3 separate regions of the Homo sapiens genome follow, and regions 2 and 3 are each linked to region 1. The links come from fine-mapping of genetic effects on gene expression. A gene starts in region 1. Each other region holds a variant in brackets. All regions are shown on one strand. Distances are between the middles of the regions.

What was found.
Region 2: its variant is fine-mapped to the expression of HOOK1 in gastroesophageal junction (GTEx, PIP 0.97).
Region 3: its variant is fine-mapped to the expression of HOOK1 in blood mononuclear cells (TOPMed, PIP 0.91).

Annotation. Positions count from the first base shown.
Region 1 is chr1:59,813,516-59,816,328 of GRCh38, forward strand. It overlaps HOOK1 (hook microtubule tethering protein 1), which reads left to right and starts at 1,434. Exons shown (of 22, transcript NM_015888.6): 1 at 1,434-1,665. The coding sequence starts at 1,603. It overlaps LOC105378758 (a long non-coding RNA gene), which reads right to left and starts at 1,351. Exons shown (of 5, transcript XR_947426.3): 1 at 1,247-1,351. RefSeq lists a silencer at 902-1,501 and an enhancer at 1,738-2,301.
Region 2 is chr1:59,512,774-59,515,273 of GRCh38, forward strand. The region is part of intron 7 of FGGY (FGGY carbohydrate kinase domain containing); the gene reads left to right. Among named protein-coding and RNA genes, the nearest start is that of FGGY, 220 kb to the left of the region's middle. The variant C/T (reference allele first, on the strand shown) is at 1,167.
Region 3 is chr1:59,770,362-59,773,214 of GRCh38, forward strand. LOC105378758 (a long non-coding RNA gene) reads right to left here. Exons shown (of 5, transcript XR_947426.3): 5 at 459-535. LOC101926944 (a long non-coding RNA gene) reads left to right here and starts at 2,434. Exons shown (of 3, transcript NR_110627.1): 1 at 2,434-2,676. The variant T/C (reference allele first, on the strand shown) is at 1,766.

The DNA of each region.
Region 1 (2,813 bases):
AAATTTTCAGTGTCTAAATATAAAAACGCAGCAATATAAAAAAAAGCCAGCTGTTTTCTTACTCAGAGCATGAATTGATGAGTTTATGAATGAGTGAAGTGACAGCAAGACTAAGAATAGTCTAGCCCTTTTCAATCACCTAAGCCATCTATCAATACCTTGGAGAGCTTCCAATTTCAGGTCACCTCCCCCGACCCCCCTCCACCCCACAACATTCTCGGAAAAAGCAAATTTTCAACTGACAAAGGAAAATGGATACATTAATATCTTCCATGTTTTTCAAAACATTTCGTTTATTTTGCTACTTGAAAACGGTCTTCCCTTTTGCCCCATGTAAAATAAAATTGCTCATGATCTATGGTCCCGTGAGAGCTTATTTAAGGAGCACTGACGGATTCTATTTTCCTTATTAATGTGGCATATTTGCCACGTGTGCAAATGAAAACATCCCTTTCCAATGAGTGCCTAGGAGGAAATCAGCTCTTCCTTCCTCGAAGAGTTTTAATTCATGGGTATGATCTATTTCTTTCTTTCTTTATTTTGTTTTATATATTTTTTAGAGACAGAGTCTCGGTTTTTTGTCCAGGCTGGGGTGCAGTGGCATGATCTCGGCTCACTGCAACCTGTGCCTCCCGGGTTCAAGCGATTCTTCTGCCTCAGCCTCCTGAGTAGCTGGGATTACAGTCATGTGCCACCACCCCCGGCTAATCTTTGTATTTTTAGTAGAGAATGGGTTTCGCCATCTTGGCCTGGCGGGTCTCGAACTCCTGACCTCAGGTGATCCACCCGCCTCAGCCTCCCAAAGTGCTAGGATTACAGGCGTGAGCCACCTCGCCCAGCCGGTAGGATCTATTTCTGAAGACAATGTGGAAGCAGAGTGTGGGCCCTCCACAGGTGTAGCGAGGCGGCGTGCTACCGCGAAGAAGGAGGGAAGACGCCTGAGCCCAGCCGGTGCCCTGCTGCCCCTCTGCCTCTTCGGCCACTGGGGCTGAGCTTCAGCCTTACCAATCCCCGCCGCGCACGCGCGCTCGCTTCCCGCGCGCAACCTCCCACCCCCGCCCTCACTGCACCTGCCAGGTCATAAACCTCTTCCCACCCACTCTCACTCTCTACCCAAGGCTCAGGCTTGTCTCACGTTGATTGGCCAGAGCCCACGAGGGCACGTCCAATCAGCAATCCCCCCTGCGCAACCTATCCCGGTTCTTCCCGCCCCCGCCCCGCCCCGCCCGCCCCCCCGGGTACCTACCGTCTCTGTGACTGGTGCGCGGCCAGGTCACTCAGGGCGGCGGGGCGAGGTGTGCGGGAGTGGGCAGGACGGGTGGGAGGAGGGGAGGGGTGGGAGAAGGCGGGGCTCAGGTGCCTGGCAGCGCGGCCGGGGCCCAGGAAGGGGAGGGGGCGAACGCTGGAGCGAGGCGGGGGCGGGTGAGGAGGGGGTGACGCCGGACGCGTCGACAGCGCGAGGGTTCGCGCGTGAGCTGCGCGGGTCGGGCCTGGTACCGAGCTTTCCTGGGGGCTAGCAGGTCGTGGACGCCGGCTCCTGGAGGAGAGCCGGTAGGAGGGAGTGTGAAGGTGTCCGCGGCGTCGTCGACGGCGGCGCCGGCCATGGAGGAGACGCAGCCGCCGCCGCAGCCTAAGCTGCCCCTGTGCGACAGCCTCATGATCTGGGTGAGTGCGAGGAGGCGAGAGGGCGAGGGGGCCAGGGGGCCGAGGCGAGGAGCCTGGGGCGCCCGGTTCTCCCAGGTGAGCTGGGGCTACCTGCACAGGGTCCCGGCGCACCCTGCCCTTCTCACCTCGTGCCCTTGACCGAGAGAATGCCACCTGCGGGTCGACGGGCAGGTGTGTGGGCGCGGGTTGGTGTCCGGGGGTGGGGGTAAAGGAAGCTCTGGGAGCGTAACAGTGGAGGCTCTGGTCTCAACCAGAGGATTCGACCTGCCTGGTGCCCTAACAGCTGGGATATGAACCAAGCACCCATCCTCTTTTCTCCCCGCTGCCCCATTTTCTCCCCCTGAACAGCGCCCGAGCCCTCCACTTTCTGGATCGCCGACTCTCTTGCCTTGGTCCGCTTGGGCGTGAAGACCCTTTCCGAAACCTAACCCTGCATCCTCAAACTACCTTGCTCTACCTGGACACAGGTGGCCAGGAGGTGGCTGGCTGTTTTAGTTCCCGGACCAATGCTCCTTCAGGACTCTAGAACATCCGATTTTGTAGAAGCCGCTTCAAAGAGATGTTTGTATTTCCCGTATGGAGAAAAAGATGTGTTGGGAGTCGGGGGTCGTTTTCCCTTTTTCTCGCTGGCCCTCTCCTCCTCTAAATGGACAGCATTTTCTTTAAAGAAAATGAGTTGACATTTTTCTTTAGGATTTATCTGTGTTTAGGATTTTTGTTAATTTGTGTTGGGTCTGGACAGGCATATCTGTCCCCAGATTGTTCAATATTCCAGTCAGCAAAATGACATCCCACCTCTTAGAGTTACTTAGATATCAGTGCTGGCATTCAGGTGTGGTTCTTAACCCATATTGAGTAAAGATGGTGTTTGATGAGCCACAAGGTGCTGTTGATGATGCTCATCCCAAACCAGTTGTTTAGTTGCGTCTAGGGGAGTGTGTGCAGATGGAATGTAAACAGACGGGATCAGGAGGCTGTAATCGGTTGAGATTCCCTAGTGATCTAATGCATCTAATTCCAAAGAATGAGAAATCTAGGTTTATGGAAATGTGTGAAGCCTATTGGAAATAGCCATAATTTAAAGCATTTACACTTTGTAAGTAAATAACTTTTGCTTTTAGTGGAATGCAAATATTTAGGGTTTGTGA
Region 2 (2,500 bases), 300 kb before region 1:
AGGTACTCCAAAACCCTTATAAGTCTCTTAGATTTATTTTAATAATATATTTGGCTTATGTCCTGTATCCAGTTCCTTGGCTGCAGTCTTGATTTTATCTTGTACATAACTCTCAAGTCTTTCATTCATGTATTCATTTGTTCATTCATAAAACACCCGTTGAACACTTACCATGTCCAGGCATGGTGCTAGAAGACAGTGAACTTAAAACAAAACCAAATAAAACCAAAGTCTCTTCCCCAGCTTTTAATGGGAAAACACACAGGGAAACAAAGAATTACAGTAAAGAATGATGACTTCCTCATCCTTATTGCAGGTTGTGTGTGTTTTTTGCAGGGGAAGTTGTTCTGGTTCTCAGCATCTCTCATCTCAACTGTAGCCATATATTTTTTTCCTAGCCTTTCATTCTAACAATGTTTTGTTTTAAACTATGATTTATAATTCATGAGATCAATTTAGCAGGACATGACCACTGAATTTGCACAACAGAATGGAACAGAATTGAATAGAACAAAGTGGAAAACATCAGAGTACATTTCACAAAGTAAGGGAAGGCACTGCTTTGTGGAGCTGTGTTTCCATTCTGTGTGTGTATACTTTCAGACACTTCCATACTCTGCCCATGCATTTACACCTCTGTGACTTGGCACACATGTTCTTTGTCCAGAATGATTGGTCCTCCACTTCTCCAGCTGGCTAACTCCTCCTCTAACTGCAAGACCCATATCAGATGCTTTCTGCTCTGCATAGCCTTCCATGAAACACTCAGGTGTATTTAGAAATTCTCTAAATTATGCTTTTTTTCAGCACACTATTTGAAGAAATGATCATATTGCATTGTAATTTCAAATATATCTGCATGTCATTTCCATTAGAGTGTGAACTCCTTGAGAACAGGAACATTATGTTATCTGTCCTGTATCCTTCATGCCAAGCCCTATGTCTGGTTCCTATAGCTGCTTATTAAGTTTATTAAATGAATAGTCACATTAAGGCAAGAATAAGGTGAAATGGCTTTAAACAGTAGAGTGAAGATTAATCTGTTTTCTTATGCAACGGATTATTAAATGGTGCCTTGTTCTACATACTACATGGATTTCCAGAGCAGGATCGCTCTCATCAATCTATGGACATGTCTGTCCTGTTCATCTCTCTGTCCTCAGGAT[C/T]TAAAACAGTGCCTAAGAATTAGTAAACAACTCATAATATATGTAGGTTGGTTGAATGCTATGTAACGTAGTTCTGATTACAGGCAAGGTTGTTTCTCTCCAAATACTTTTCAGTGTGAGCAATGTGTGCTTTTGATTGGAATGTTAAGATTTTGGTTTTTACATACAAGCACAGAGAGAACTTGAGGTCTAGGCAGACATGGAGTGTTTCTGTCCCCTAGCAATCCTGACATTCCAGATCATGTGTGAGGCCACAAAAGCTTTCTCTGTCATGCTTTTTAAATTATCCCTGGGGTGACAGTGTCAATCATCCACCCCTACCTGGGTGACAATCACTTGGCTGGGACCGGCATATGCTGAAAGAAAGAGAACTGCTGCTTGAAGAGCCGCAGGCACTACAGTTTCCTTGTCAGTTTCCCAGACTTCCCTCAGGGACGTGCCAAAACACACCTTCTCACTTCTGCCCAGGACTCACTATGTCCTCCAGGAGGGGAGACTGTCAATGACCCTCACCTTTTTCCTAAACAGAGATGTTCAGTGGCAGAAGTTTTACCCTTAGAAGCTTTGGCTTAAGCCTTTTGTTCCCCGTAAAATGCAAATGCTTGTAAGTGATATGGTTTGGCTGTGTCCCCATTCAAATCTCCACAGAGTTGTATCTCCCAGAATTCCCACATGTTGTGGGAGGGACCCAGGGGGAGGTAATTGAATCATGGAGGCCGGTCTTTCCCATGCTATTCTCGTGATAGTGAATAAGTCTCACGAGATCCGATAGGTTTATCAGGGGTTTCCGCTTTTGCTTCTTCCTTATTCTTTCTTGCTGCCACCATGTAAGAAGTGCCTTTTGCTCTTCGCCATGATTATGAGACCTCCCCAGCCATGTGGAACTGTAAGTCAAATTAAACCTCCTTTTCTTCCTTGTCTCGGGTATGTCTTTATCAGCAGCATAAAAACAGACTAATACAGTAAATTGGTACCAGTAGAGTGGGGCATTGCTGAAAAGATACTTGAAAATGTGGACACAACTTTGGTACTGGGTAACAAGCTCATAGAGGGAAGAGACTTGCCTTGTCTCTGATGAGACTTTGGACTGTGGACTTCTGGGTTAATTCTGAAATGAGTTAAGACTTTGGAGGACTGTTGGGAAAGCAGCTGGGAGGGAGGCTGTACCCTGCAAAGCCACAGAGGCAGCGCTGCCCAAGACCATGGGAACCCACCTCTTGCATCAGTGTGACTTGGATATGAGACCTGGAGTCAAAGGAGGTCATTTTGGAGCTTTAAAATTTGATTGCCTTGCTGGATTTTGGACTTGCCTGGGCCCTGAAACTCCTTTGTTT
Region 3 (2,853 bases), 43 kb before region 1:
TCTTATTCTATGCTAGGGTTTCCCAAGAGAAGGTTTATTAGTGGGAATGGTGTTTAGGTGCAAGTAATAATAACCCATCTGACAGCTAAATTGATATGATAAGATAGTTGTTATTTACAGGGACAGGCAGCCATCAAGTCAACTTGAGGATTCAACAGTTCCATCAAAGAGCCAAGCCCTTTTTATCTTCCTATTCCTCCAGTCTTCATCAGCTAGCAATTGACCTCAGGTTTGTTACTTCCGATTACAAGATGCTGACATCTCTAAAGGCATCTTATTTTCACAGCATCCATAACACGAGAATCTTCTCTCTATGCTATCCTTTTTTTGTTCTTTGTTTTTTGTTGTTGTTGTTGTTGTTCTTGTTGTTGTTTTTCCTGATCAAGGAAGAACCTCCCAGCAGACTTCTCCTTAGGTTTCATTGGCCAGATTCTGCATCACACTCCAGCCACTATGGATTGCTAAAACTGGCATAGAGAACTCATGATGCCTTCTCCGGGACTGGGCATATTGCTGTTCCAATGAAATCATGGTTCTGTTAAAAAGGGAGGGAGGGAATGGCTTTTGTATAATCAGCCAACACTATTTACCAAAATAACACTAGATTTCATTTTTAAAAAAGAGCCATGGCCAACTAAGTTTGGGAAACACTGAGTTAAATATGTCTTGTTACTACAGAATATCTTATACTAATCTTGTAATATACTCATGTGCATTGTGAGCTTCCTAGAGAAAAATTACCTGTGAAGCATTTCCCAGACTTACTCCTTTAGACAAGTTTTTTACAAAGCATTTTATTGCACATAATGGAACAACCACAGTATTTCGAAGGTTAATTAACCAAATCATCATGTTTTCACCTGAGTTGTATAGATGTTTTTCTTTCATATTATCTGTTGGAAGGTTTATTCAGCAAATTGATAGCTCCTATTATTAAAATTTTGGTTATCTAATTACAGAATTAAAATGATATTCACTGCTATAGAAATTATTGCCTTACGAATGAATGTTGCTAATTATCAATGTTTAAACTAGTCATTAGAAATAGGCTCAAAAAGACCTCTACTTGGAAATATAAGAAATTTCAACTGAAAGTTGTCCCTTCAGTTAAATTAAATTGTAGCTCCAGACCATGGGTCAAACTAACGGGATAGCAAGTGTCACATTAACTAATTATTAACTAATAATTAATTATTAACTAATAATACAATCATGCATTTCTTTGTTATATTTTTAAATTTAGTATTTCCATCCATTCTAACTTTGAAGTCTTCCTTCTCTATCCTGTATTCCATGTAGGAAACTCCCTAGTAATGTATATCAGGCCAAGAATATCACGCCTCTCCAACTTACTTCCCCTCCTTGTGCACACCCTCACCCTAAACCATACATACAACACAGACAACATTAATATATTATTAGGTCTTTTGCTAAAAAGAGTAAAAAGTTATTTCCTTAAGATCAAGCAAATACTAAAGGATAGTGTAGCTAACATTAGCTATTTTGCGACATGAGTTCTTAATACTAAATGTCATGAGTTCTATTAAAGTTGTGCTGATTTAAATTTCAACCTTGTATAGATATTTTAATATCATTTTGACAATATACTTCTAAGCTGTTTATTTACTTTAATGGTTTTGTAAGAAGTTTCTGCATACACTACAAGATAAAAACTTGTTACAATTAAAAAGGATTTGAAGGAACCATGAAGTTATTTTAACAGTAAACATGTTTATTTTTTGTATAAATTGTGCATTTTCCTTTT[T/C]TACATCTACATAGTAATTTTTAAAGTATAATTTCTGAAACATATGGCTTAGCTGTTCTACACAGGTGCTACATAGAGCTGGAGAACATATTGTGCTTATATGTATTCAAGCATATGTTTCAATCCTACTCTTTTTACAATAAACATTTCATCGACTTCCTGCTATTTATATCAGGAACACGTATTTGGCCTTGATTTCACCTGCTCTTTTTGTAGAGAGACTTACAAAGAGACTCTGGGAGGTTATGGAATCTACAGGAAATAAATACAATGTCGATTTTGTTACAAGGTGATTGAGCTGGTAAGGAAGTGGTTAAAAAATAAACCTTTACAACTGTAAGTGTAGAATGAGATAACAATGTGTTACTCTTTTCGTTTTTTTCTGATTATTTTACTCTCCCCAAAACCCTTTTACATTTGTACAAAAACTTAACTCAGTGTTTAAAAAATATTGTTTCTCATACTATAATCACAACTCTAGTTTTAAGAATAAACAGTTAATATACCAATAAGAATAACTAATAATAATAGTAGCTAACAGTGGATAAGTGCTCACCATGGGCAGGCTCTGGTCTATGCCTGATCCCACTTAATCTTCATAACAAACGGAAATGATCAGCACTGTTATTTATATTTTGCAGATAAGGAAAACGAAGCACAGAGCAATTAAATAACTTGCCCAAGATCGCCCAAGATCACCCAAGATGTCCGGCTGAAGTTCTTAACCATTACCTTACACTAATCAACAGCAACAATAATAATAACCACCTTTCTAGGATGCAAATTATGTTCCAAGAACTTTCATTATTTCATTACATCTGCATAGCCCCAAGAGTAAATAATATCCTGTTCTATTGAAGAAGAAACTGAGGTCCCAAGACATGAAATTACTTGCTCAAGGTCACACACTGGTAAGTGGCATTAAACCACCTCCTATAAGTGTCAGAAGATAATTGGGGCTGAGGTGGAGCTGAGATTTTAAAAATATCAGTGGTAGGAGATAGACGATGTGATGCCCCATTTAAACTACATGGCAGTGGTGTCCTACGACTAGGAGAGGAGAGGCGGGAAAAGCTGAAGTCTCATGA